Linked DNA regions of Homo sapiens: region 2 is linked to region 1. A link means that fine-mapping ties the variant in region 1 to the expression of a gene that starts in the linked region. Tissue or cell type: whole blood. Region 1 holds a variant in brackets; the other region holds the start of a gene. All regions are shown on one strand. Distances are from middle to middle.

Region 1 (5,455 bases):
TTCTGGCCCCCTGGCTGTCAGTGTCGCTCCAGGGCCTTGACAAGCAGCTCATTCAAGCGGCCCACCATGGCCCTAGGGTCGTCAACAAGTCCAGCAGCAATCATGGCGTTCTCGTATATCTGAAAGGCAAGAGGAGAAACCCATTATGAGGGGCATGGGGCACCTTTTCATTTTTTTTTTTTTGAGACAGAGTCTCACTGTTGCCGAGGCTGGAGTGCAGAGGCACGATCTCGGCTCACTGCAACCTCAGGTGATCCCCCCGCCTCCCAAAGTGCTGGGATTACAGGCGTGAGCCACCACGCCTGGCCATTTTTCCGTTTTTAAAACAGAATTTGGCTGGGCACGGTGGCTCACGAGGTCAGGAGATTGAGACCATCCTGGCCAAGATGGTGAAAACCCCATCTCTACTAAAATACAAAATTAGCCAGGCGCATGCCTGTAGTCCCAGCTACTCGGGAGGCTGAGGCAGGGGAATTGCTTGAACCCGGGAGGCAGAGGTTGTAGTGAGCCAAGATCGCGCCACTGCACTCCAGCCTGGCAACAGAGCAACACTCCATCTCAAAAAACAAACAAACAAACAAAAAGACAGGATTTTAGAGGAAACCGCTGTTCCACCCTGAAGGCAGGCTGGCAGGGCTGGTAGCCTGGGTCCCTGCAGTCATCCTAAGCTGCTGCACTCACCTGATCCACCAGCAGCTGAGCCAGGCCAGGCTCGCTTGCGCGCAGCTGATTCAGCTTCTTGATGAGCGCGTGCCTGCAACACAGAACCCACCAGAAAAAGCAGCTCAGTACCACGTGCTGTGACCCTCCCTTCATGTTTTGGGATTATCAGGATATTTAAAGAAGCACAGTAAGACTGTCTGTAGTTTTTTAAATAAGGTATGTTAATGATCATTTATAGATAATATCATTATATACCCAGAAAACCCAAGAGAATCAGGAGTGTCAGTATTAGAAAATGCTGTAAGGTAGCCAAACTCCAAGATTAATATACACTAAAGGGACAAAAGGAGCTTAGTACGTGAAGACATGCCTTGGTTCCTAGATAAATAATAAAAGAGAAGGGAGTAAGACCCACATGTTGAAACATATTATAGGGCTCTAGTAAATAAAACAGTTTAGGTCTGGAAAGGGGGAAGGCAAACAACTCCATGTAACGAGGGTGGACACTGAGTGTCTGATGAGGACAGTATTTCACAGAAGAGGGAGGAGACAGATCACTCCATCCAGCAGCACTGGGATGACTGGGAGCCATGCAGAAAACCATTTAGACCAGAGTAAATTCCAGAGGGATCAAAGATGACAAGCACAATTCTAGGGAAGAAATGTTTCATCATCTCAGAAGGGGAAAGCCTTTCCAAGCAAAACCACAAACCAAAAAGTAAAGAATGATTGACATATTTGACGTCAGAACAATATTTTTTTCTGCATAGGAAAAAGCATCATGTAGTATTTAACCTTAACATGAATATTATAATTTTTCACTTAGAAGTCTGATAAAACCGAGGGCTCTGGGGAACTGTAAATTTGTACAACCTCTCCAGAGGACAACTGGAGTCGGGAAAACCACATGTGGATGATATGCTGAGACTCAGCCATTCCATTTCCTAACTGCATCCCTTTAAACACTTTTTTTTTTAGATAGATAGATAGATAGATAGATAGATAGACTCTCACTCCTTCACCCAAGCTAGAGTGAAATGGCATGATCTTGGCTCACCGCAGCCTCCTGGTTTCAAGAGGTTCTCTTGCCTCAGCCTCCCAAGTAACTGGGATTACAGGCACCCACCACCACCCCCAGCTAGTTTTTGTATTTTTAGTAGAGATGAGGTCTCGAACTCCTGACCTCAAGTGATCCACCCGCCTAGGCCTCCCAAAATGTTGGGATTACAGGCGTGAGGCACCGCACCCAACCTAACAGAGGAAACACTTCAAATGCACATCCTCACATTTCTAGTCTACGTAGCTGGAAAAAAAGGACATTCTTAATATGCTAATGTGGAGGTCACCTAGTTACCCTAAGGGAGAAAAGCAAGGCAAGGACCCACTGCACAGCAAGTTCCCCCTTGGAAGCCCACGGGCGCAGCTGCCCACAAATGCACATAATCTCTGCAGAAATACAAAAGCCCTAATGCTGGCTGCACTGGGGACACAGGTAGGAGGAAATTTTCCCCTGTAAGCAGTTTTGAATTCTGAACTATGTGGACAGAACACCAAATTTTAAAACAAATGAAAGTGAAGCTGGCTGGGCACAGTGGCTCTCGCCTGTAATCCCACCACTTTGGGAGGCCAAGGCTGCAGTGAGCTCTGATGGCGCCACTGGTACACTCCAGCCTAGGTGACAGAGCAAGACCCTGTCTCCAAAAGTGAAGTGGCAACAGACAGAAACGAGCACTTCTGCAGCTATCTCACAAAACTAGTTTGCCACCAAAACTAGTTAAAGTGACCTGGTGTCCGCCTCACTGAGCTGCTCCAGCAGAGGCACAGGCATTCTGCATACTGGCGCTGCTGTGCACTGACAGCCATAAGCCAAGTCAGCCTTTCCCCAGGAGTGCCATGGCTAGGAAGATGCATCTCCCTCGCCTCCAGTATAATTTTAAAAGTTATGGTTGTAAAATGACAAAAGAAAAAAACTAGACATGTACTAAAGAACAAAACAAAAACTGGCTGGGGGTGGTAGCCCACACTTGTAATCCCAGCACTTCGGGAGGCTAAGGCAGGTGGATTGTTTGAGGCCAGGAGGTAGAAGTTGCAGTGAGCTGAGATTGCCCCACTGCACTCCAACCTGGGGGACAGAGTGAGACCCTGTCTCAAAAATTAAAATACTACTTAGGCTACATTG[TG/T]GGGGGGGTGGTAAGTCTATGGATTTTGATTTCCTTTTTGCTGTTTTCTATTTTTGGTAACATGTTTATGTAACTTCATTTTTTAAAAAATTGCTACATTCAAAATTTCCCCCAAAAAAGAAACTTCATATACAAGTTAGTTCATATACAAGTTAGAAAATGAAATTTTAAAATACCCCATAAGACACATCAAAGAATAATTCTTTAAAAATGGTACCAGAACCCTACAGAGAATGTAAGGTACCAAAGGATGTTAAAGACCTAAATAGATCACATTCATGGGTGCAAAGAAGTGATACTGTAAAAAGAAAGAAACTCAAAAGATACCTAAAGGCAGGTGAAAAGACATTTACAACAGATAAAGGGCATATAAAGAACAACAGGAAGAAACGAGGGAAATCTTACGGCTCAGCCACTGTCAGGGCTGGGGGGTTCTCGGTGCACCCTGGAAGCAGCTCCCACCACCGGGGCCACAGAGAAACCCACACAAGCCCCAGACACGTGGACAAGAATACTCAGAGCAGCCTGGCTCTCCACAACTTCTGACCAAGAACCACCGGAGGCCCAGCAGAGCAGAACGGAGCAGTCTGCTGTGCCGAGGTGGGTTTCTGCAGCGGACATTATTCGGCTATGAAAATGAACTTGTGGCAGCCCCTCTGCATGGGCAACCCTCATGCCAAGTGAGCAACGTGAGACTTCAGCAAACACCAAGATCCACGTACAAAGCTCAAAACAGGCAAAACTGAGCATGTCCAGGACACGCACAGGTGGCAAAGCCATAAAGCAAAACGAGGACATGGTCACAGGCTGGGATGTGGCTAACCTCCCAGGTGACACCTGGGGATGGTAAGGGGCTGGCCAGGTTCCATTTCACATGGGTGCAGCCTAAACTGCATACAGCTCCTTATAGTTACCCACATGTCCACAGGCCTCACGCACTTTTCTTCTGTGTCACATTCCACAACAAAAGAACACCACACACAGGATTCTGGGGAATCCCACAGGCTGGAAGAGCCAGGAGCGTGGCCTCACCTGGGGTTGATCTCCAGCGTGGGCTGCAGGAGCTGTGCGCGCTCCTCCTGGGTCTTGGCCAGCTGCTGCATGCGCAGGAAGTGGCGGGCAGCCCCCATCTCCAGCACGGTGACCATGGCAGGGTGGGTGTCCAGTCGGAGGGTCACCTGTGAGCAAAGCCCGGGGTTGAGGGTGATAGAGGTTCCCAATGTGAGAGGGCTGGCAGGATCTTACCAGGGGTGAAGGTCACCCAGACCACGAGGTAGCAGGCGGGGTCTCAAGGACTCCCCTGGACCAGCGCTGCTCCCTCCCCATTACCCACTAACTTGTGGGCCCTGAGCTGATGCCCCACGCAAAGATACTGTGCCCGAGGGGCTCCACCACCCTGGTGCCCCGCTGCTGCCTCCAGGAGCTGCCCGAATCCATCGTCCTCTGCTCCATGCCAGCCCACCCTGCATGAGGCCCCTTCCTCCAAGTGACCATGCATGGGACGCTCATTTCTCACTCTGAGCTAGACAGGTTGGTGGGGGGAGTCTTAGCTCTCTGAAGCCCACCCAAAACCCCCGACTAAGCACCCAAGTGAGCATGTGAGCTCCTGAGGGCTGGGGTAGCATGTCCCTTGTTTGGAACCCCCACGTCCTCAGCCATTGCAGCTCCCACTCAGGATGCTGGTTTTTCAGTTCTCAGTTCACACCTGCTCTGGAGCAGGGCTGGGAGAAAGACACGGCCTTCCTGCCTCAGCGGCACTCCCGAGCAACACGTGCCGAGCAGGGACCCACAGGGTCTCCACCTGACACCAAGGGCTTCTGCTGCTGCTGGAAGGACACCCAACGGGCCAGGTACTGGGAGCCACCAGCTGGCCAGCCTGTTAGGGACACTGCGGCCAAGTGGTGGTCCATCCCCGGGAAAGCCTCACCTTCACGTTGGTGACACGCGACCCCAGCACATTTCTCATCCAGGCCATGAGCTCCTCCGTCTCCTTCTCTGATAGGCACTCGGCGGCTGCGGAAGAGCAGGCGACAGGGAGCTCAGGCCTGCATCCCAACTCCCCGGCTTCCATGGGGGCCACGCAGCATGCTTCCAGCTCCCACCTCCTCTCCCACCAGGATGGAGACACAAGCTAGCAAGATGCTTTTCATCTAAAAGTAAAACCTCAAAGGATGCTTCAGGTTGCCTGAGGCCCATACAACTTGGTTAGGGCTTTAAAAAAATACACAGCCTCTCAAGAAGCTGGGCCAGCTCCAGAAGCCACCGTGGCAGGAGCACTGGACAGACCCCTGATATCTAAACCAGGAGGCACCTTCCTCCAGTCACCAGGGTGCTCCCACAAGGCTCTTCTCGGGGGTGGCTGAGCCCAGGTCAACTGACGAAAACCCAAAGGAAGCCCTCGCTGCGGGGCAGGAGAGGCGTGCGGGGAGTGGAAACCAGCCCCACGCCTAGAGAGCAGGGGATGCCGACCTGGGGACCTGTCCTCAAACTTCTCCTCCTTGTAGTGATCCACGACTATGTCCGTCTCCACAGAGATCAGCTTCTTCTTGTCAAACTCACGAAGGTGCAGCAGGGTGAGCTCATCAAACTGCTCAAAGCAGAAGAGAACCTGC
Region 2 (5,851 bases), 56 kb after region 1:
TCCAGACAGCAGGGTCACATTTTCTTTGACGACTCGGGGGCATTGGAAATGTATTTGCTGAATAAACTGTTATGGGCAAAAATGACAAATATAAAGTCCACAAGCGGATATCCTAGCCCACCCCTCACAGAAATATTCTGAGGGTAGGCCAGGCGCAGTGGCTCACGCCTGTAATCCCAGCATTTTGGGAGGCCAAGGCTAGTGGATCATGAGGTCAGGAGTTCGAGACCACCCTGGCCAGCATAGTGAAACCCCATCTCTATTAAAAATACAAAACCTAGCTGGGTGTGGTGGCATGCGCCTGTAGTCCCAGCTACGTGGGAGGCGAAGTCAGGAGAATCACTCGAACCCAGGAGGCGGAGGGTGTGGTGAGCTGAGGTTGCACCACTGCACTCCAGCCTGGGCAACAGAGCAAGACTCCGGCTCAAAAAAAATCAAATAAGATATTCTGAGGGCAAGTGACAGGGCTGGCAGTGTCAGGGGTCAGTGAGGTCTGAAAGGGTAAGAGGGCTGAGCTCATGGGTGACTGAGGCAGCGTAGCATGGGCGAGAGGATTCCACAGACATAAGACACGCACACCTGAAGCCAGGCACATGCTACAACCTGGAAATACTTTCCCAAGAAAAGAAAAAAATTTCAAGAGGTCTGGATTTTCTACATAGGTGGATCTGCCTAAACTATTCTTTCTCCCCTGTTGCACAAGACATGTATTTTCTTAGCTAAATTCTCTCATCGTTCAATCAATCCAAACAATTTACCTTCCCATTCATCCACACAGGTGACAATGACAAGGGCACCTGCCACGCAGAAGGCTGCCAAGAACATGTTCCATTTCTTAGACTCAGGCAGAGGAATGCTTGAACCACCGCACCAGAAGATGGAGGACGAGAGGAGAGAGACAATTTTTAAGAAAAAGAGATAAAGGGCTGGGCACAGCGGCTCACGCTTGTAATCCCAGCACTTTGGGAGGCCGAAGTGGGCGGATCACGAGGTCAGGAGATCGAGACCATCCTGGCTAACAGGGTGAAACCCCGTCTCTACTAAAAATACAAAAAATTAGCCAGGCATGGTGGTGGGCGCCTAAAGTCCCAGCTACTCGGGAGGCTGAGGCAGGAGAATGGCCTGAACCCGGGAGGCGGAGCTTGCAGTGAGCCAAGATCGCGCCACTGCACTCCAGCCTGGGTGACAGAGCAAGACTCCATCTCAAAAAAAAAGAAAAAGAAAAAGAGATAAAGAAACAGAATTAAAATGTCCCTGGGCTGAAAACTGACATATTTTCCAAATGGAAGGGACAGTGCATGATACAAAGCATGAATCACAAACACCTGTGGACGCGAGACCACAAACGACAAAGAGAAAAAATCTTAACCTCCAAGGGGGAAAAAACCCGAGTCAGCTACAAAAGAAACGAGAACCAAATTAACAGAACAGTTGGCCAGGCACGGTGACACACGCCTGCAATCCCAGCATTTTGGAGGGCAAGGCAGGCAGATCACTTGAGGTCAGGCACTGGAGACCAGCCTGGCCAACATAGTGAAACCCCACCTCATAAAGACAAAAAAATAAATAAATAATTGATCAGACACTGGTGCTAGAAGAGAGCAACAGCATCACTTTCTGAGGGAAAATTATTATTATTTTTGTTGTTGAGATGAAGTCTCACTCTGTCGCCCAGGCTGGAGTGCAGTGGTGCAATCTCAGCTCACTGCAATCTCTGCCTCCTGGGTTCAAGCGATTCTCCTGCCTCAGCCTCCCAAGAAGCTGGGATTACAGGCGCGCGCCACCACACCCAGCTAATTTTTGTATTTTTAGTAGAGACAGGGTTTCACCATGTTGGCCAGGCTGGTCTTGAACTCCTGATCTGCCCACCTCAGGCTCCCAAAGTGCTAGGATTACAGGCGTGAGCCACCGCGCCCGGCCACAAGGTATCTTTTATAGACCACTGGTTTTGAAAAGACATAAGATTCAGCGTTGAAGAAAATACCTTTGGAATAGGCAGTCTTGATGCCTGCTAAAGGGGATATAAATTGATAAGGCCTTTTTGGACAATTTGGCAGTATCTGCTAACATTTCAAAAATGCATAGGCTCTGAAATATCAATTCTAAAATTCTAATTATGTAAGGCTAAAGAAATACCGCACGTGAACAAATATTTAAGTACTCACCCATTCTATGCAGCATTGTAATAAAAAGTAAAACCTGAAATAACCTTTATTGCGTCCACTAATAGGACAATGTTTAAACAAATGACACGTCCATCATACAGAATACTGTGTGGTCACTGGAAGGCACATGGACCTGTATACACTGACATGAAAAGATGTGGAAAGAATGCTGGGAGCGTTAAAATTTTCTGAAGTACAACGTAGCACAATGCATACATGGTTTAGGCTTTTTAGAATAAAAAATACTTATACGCAGACATTTATATTTACACGTATAACACTGTGTACAGCCCCGAAGCAATGCCGAAACTTTCACTGTTGTTACCTCCGAGTGGGGACTGGGAAAGCAGAGGTTAGGGTCGTTCTCTCTGTTTTACAAACATTTATTGGCGCATCCATCAATTCCAGGCCCCGAGGACACAGCTGCGTCAACGACATCGAGTCCACCTGCTCTGGGGACCCGGATGACTGCTATAGGTTTTGTTCACTGTGGCGTCCCCAGAACCTGCACGGCGCCGGGCACTGAGCGGGCGCTCACATGTGCGTCCAATGAACGAATTAACAAATGAACCCTCAGTGCGCTACTGGGAGGCGGGGAGGGGTAAAGCACGATCCATGGAACTAGCACGATCACCCCGAGTGAGTCCATTCCCCGCAACATGCACCCGCAAAGACTCCGCGCTCCGCAGCGGCTCCACCTGCACGTGCGCTACCTGACTGGACCGAAGCTCCAGGAGGGACGACCCCGCAGCCGCTCCGCCCGACCCCGCGACCCCCCAAGACCCAGCCTCCTTCAGGGCTCCCATGGGCGGGTGGCGAGGGGAGTCCAGCCGAGGAAAAGGCAGCCAAGCTGGAGCTGGCGAGGAGCGGAGCGAAAGTAAACGCGTCTGCCGCGCTTGGCCTCGCCGGACCTCCCACGCCTGTGAAGCAGGTGCCGGCGCCTCGCTCCCCGGAGCACAGGGACGTCCCTGCCGTCTCCGTGGCCCGGCCCGCCCGCTGCCCGTCCAGCCAGGACGCCCTCACCTCCCGGCACGGCCGCCAGCGCCGGCGCCCGCAGCAAAGGCCGCAGGCGGCGGCCCCACAGCAGCAGCGCCCGCAGCTCGCGCGCCATGTCGTACTCCCAGAGCGCCGCGCGCAGCCACGCGGGACCGTACACGATGGGAAGGGGCGGGACGGGGCTGCGCGGGGCGGGGCTTCCTCGGGCGCGGGGCGGTGACGTCACGGCGGGCGCCGGGCTGTCCGGGCAGCTGCCTGCTCGGGCGCGTGGCGGGGTACTACCCGTCTCGTGGACGGTCGGGCCTGGGGGTGGGACCTCCGTGACCTTGGATCGCGTTGTCAAGGGCGACGGGCCTTGCGCGCGGAGGTGGGGGAGGTGGCCCCGCCGCCCCCGGCCCACGCTGGCCGGCTGCGCCTAGCTGTGCGCATTCCTGGAATGGGGCGGATGTCAGTATCCACGCGAGGGTGTGGAGGCGACGCTGGGGAAGAAGCAGTTCCCGTGTCTGCGACCTTTGTGAATCCCGGCCATCCGTCTAGGCCGCTGCAAGTCTCTTGCAAACCAAGACTGGACAAAAAGCTAAAGCGAATGAGGAAGGGGATTCCAGGCTTGACTGGCTACTACTCCAAAACCTGAACCCAGTGACCAATACCACCAGGAAAACTGCGGTTATTCGTTTATTCCACTTCTCTTGTCCTTGTCGAGAAGAGTCAAACTCTAAAGTATTTAGAAGGTTATTCTGAGCCAAATATGAGTGTGCATGGAGGGAGGCACAGTCTCAAAAGGTCCTGAGAACTTGGCCCAAGGTGCTTGGGTTACAGCTTGCTTGGTTTTATACATTTTAGAGAGACATAAGACATCAGTCAATGCATGTAAGACATAGGTTGGTTCCGTGTGGAAAGGCAGGACAACTCAAAGGGTGAAATACTTAGAGGTCATAGGTGGATTCAGATACTTTCTGATTGGCAATTGGTTAAAAGAGTTGAGTTCTGGTTGGGCGCGGTGGCTCACGCCTGTAATCCTAGCACTTTGGGAGGCTGAGGTGGGCGGACTGCCTGCGGTCAGGAGTCCGAGACCAGCCTGGCCAACATGGTGAAAACCCATCATCTCTACTAAGATACAAAAAATTAGCTGGGCAAGGTGGCACGTGCCTGTAGTCCCAGCTCCTGGGGAGGCTGAGGCGGAAGAATAGCGTGAACCCGGGAGGCTGCGGTTGCAGTGAGCCGAGATCGTGCCACTTGCACTGCAGCCTGGGCGACAGAGCTGTGACTCCGTCTCAAAAAAAAAAAAAAAAGAAAACAAAAAAAAGAAAAAAAAGAGTTGAGTTATACAGACCTGGAATCAATAAAAAGAGTGTCTGGGTGAAGATAAGGGGTTGTGGGCACGAGCACGGTGACTCACACCTGTAATCCCAACACTTTGGGATGCCGAGGTGGGCGAATTGCTTGAGGTCAGGAGTTGGAGAGCAGCGTGGGCAACATGGTGAGACCCTGTCTGTACCAAACATACCTGTACCGGATGTGGTGGCGGAGGCCTGTAATCCCAGCTACAAGGGAGGCTGAGGTGGGTGGATTGCTTAAGCCCAGGAGGGAGAGGTTGCAGTGAGCCAAGTTCGTGCCATTGAACTCCAGCTTGGGCAAGAGAGCCACACCCTGTCTCAAAACAAACAAACAAACAAACAAACAAAAAACAGGTTGTGAAGACCAAGGTTCTTATTATGTAGAGGAAGTCTCATAGATGACCACCCTTACAGGTAATAGATGGCAAATGTTTTCGCAAATATTGTTTATTCAGACCGTTAAAAATTCCTAGACCCTCAGGATCAGGAAAAGACCTGCAAAGGTGGCCTGGCATGGTGGCTTACGCATGTAATTCCAGCACTTTAGGAGGCCAAGGTGGTCTTATCACTTGAGGTCAGGAGGTTGAGACCAGCCTGGTCGGCATGGCAAAACCCCATCTCTACTAAAAATACAAAAATTAGGCCAAGAGCAGTGGCTCACGCCTGTAATCCTAGCACTTTGGGAGGCTGAGGCGGGCAGATCACCTGAGGTCGGGAGTTCGAGACCAGCGTGACTGACAGGGAGAAACTCCGTCTCTACTAAAAATACAAAAAATCAGTCAGGCGTGGTGGCGCATGCCTGTAATCCCAGCTACGCAGGAGGTTAAGGCAGGAGAATCGCTGGAACCCAGGAGGTGAAGGTTGCAGTGAGCTGATACCGCACCATTGCACTCCAGCCTGGGCAACAAGAGTGAAAGTCTGTCTCAAAAACAAAAAAAATTACCTGGGTGTGGTGGTGTGCACCTGTGTACAGCTGAGGCTACTCGGGAGGCTGAAGCAGGGGAATCGCTTGAACCCAGGAGGCAGAGATTGCAGTGAGCCAAGATCGCACCACTGCACTCCCACTCCAGCCTGGGCAACAGAACAAGATTCCGTCTCAAAAAAAAAAAAAAGTCCTTTGTAATGTTAACGCTGGTCAGTTGTGCCTCATTTCCAAGGGGTGGAGGGTGTAATGAGGCAGGACCCACCCCATCCTTCCAATTATGGCCTGAACTAGTTTTTTAGGTTTCTTTGAAATCCCCTTGGTGGAGAGGAATGATCCATTCCATGGGTTGGGGGACTTATAATGTGTTTTTGCCGGCTGGGCACGGTGGCTCACGCCTGTAATCCCAGTACTTTGGGAGGCCGAGGCAG

The links. PIP is the estimated chance that this variant, and not a neighbour inherited with it, causes the effect.
Region 2: it holds the start of TRAP1, and the variant in region 1 is fine-mapped to the expression of TRAP1 in whole blood (INTERVAL, PIP 0.94).

Annotation. Positions count from the first base shown.
Region 1 is chr16:3,658,112-3,663,566 of GRCh38, forward strand. It overlaps TRAP1 (TNF receptor associated protein 1), which reads right to left. Exons shown (of 18, transcript NM_016292.3): 14 at 5,313-5,451; 15 at 4,771-4,856; 16 at 3,876-4,021; 17 at 682-754; 18 at 1-119. The coding sequence ends at 18. It also overlaps a transcript of DNASE1 not described here. Among named protein-coding and RNA genes, the nearest start is that of DNASE1, 6.1 kb to the left of the region's middle. The variant TG/T (reference allele first, on the strand shown) is at 2,843.
Region 2 is chr16:3,714,233-3,720,083 of GRCh38, forward strand. TRAP1 (TNF receptor associated protein 1) reads right to left here and starts at 3,292. Exons shown (of 18, transcript NM_016292.3): 1 at 3,189-3,292. The coding sequence starts at 3,276. RefSeq lists an enhancer at 1-38 and silencers at 2,893-3,012, 3,033-3,642.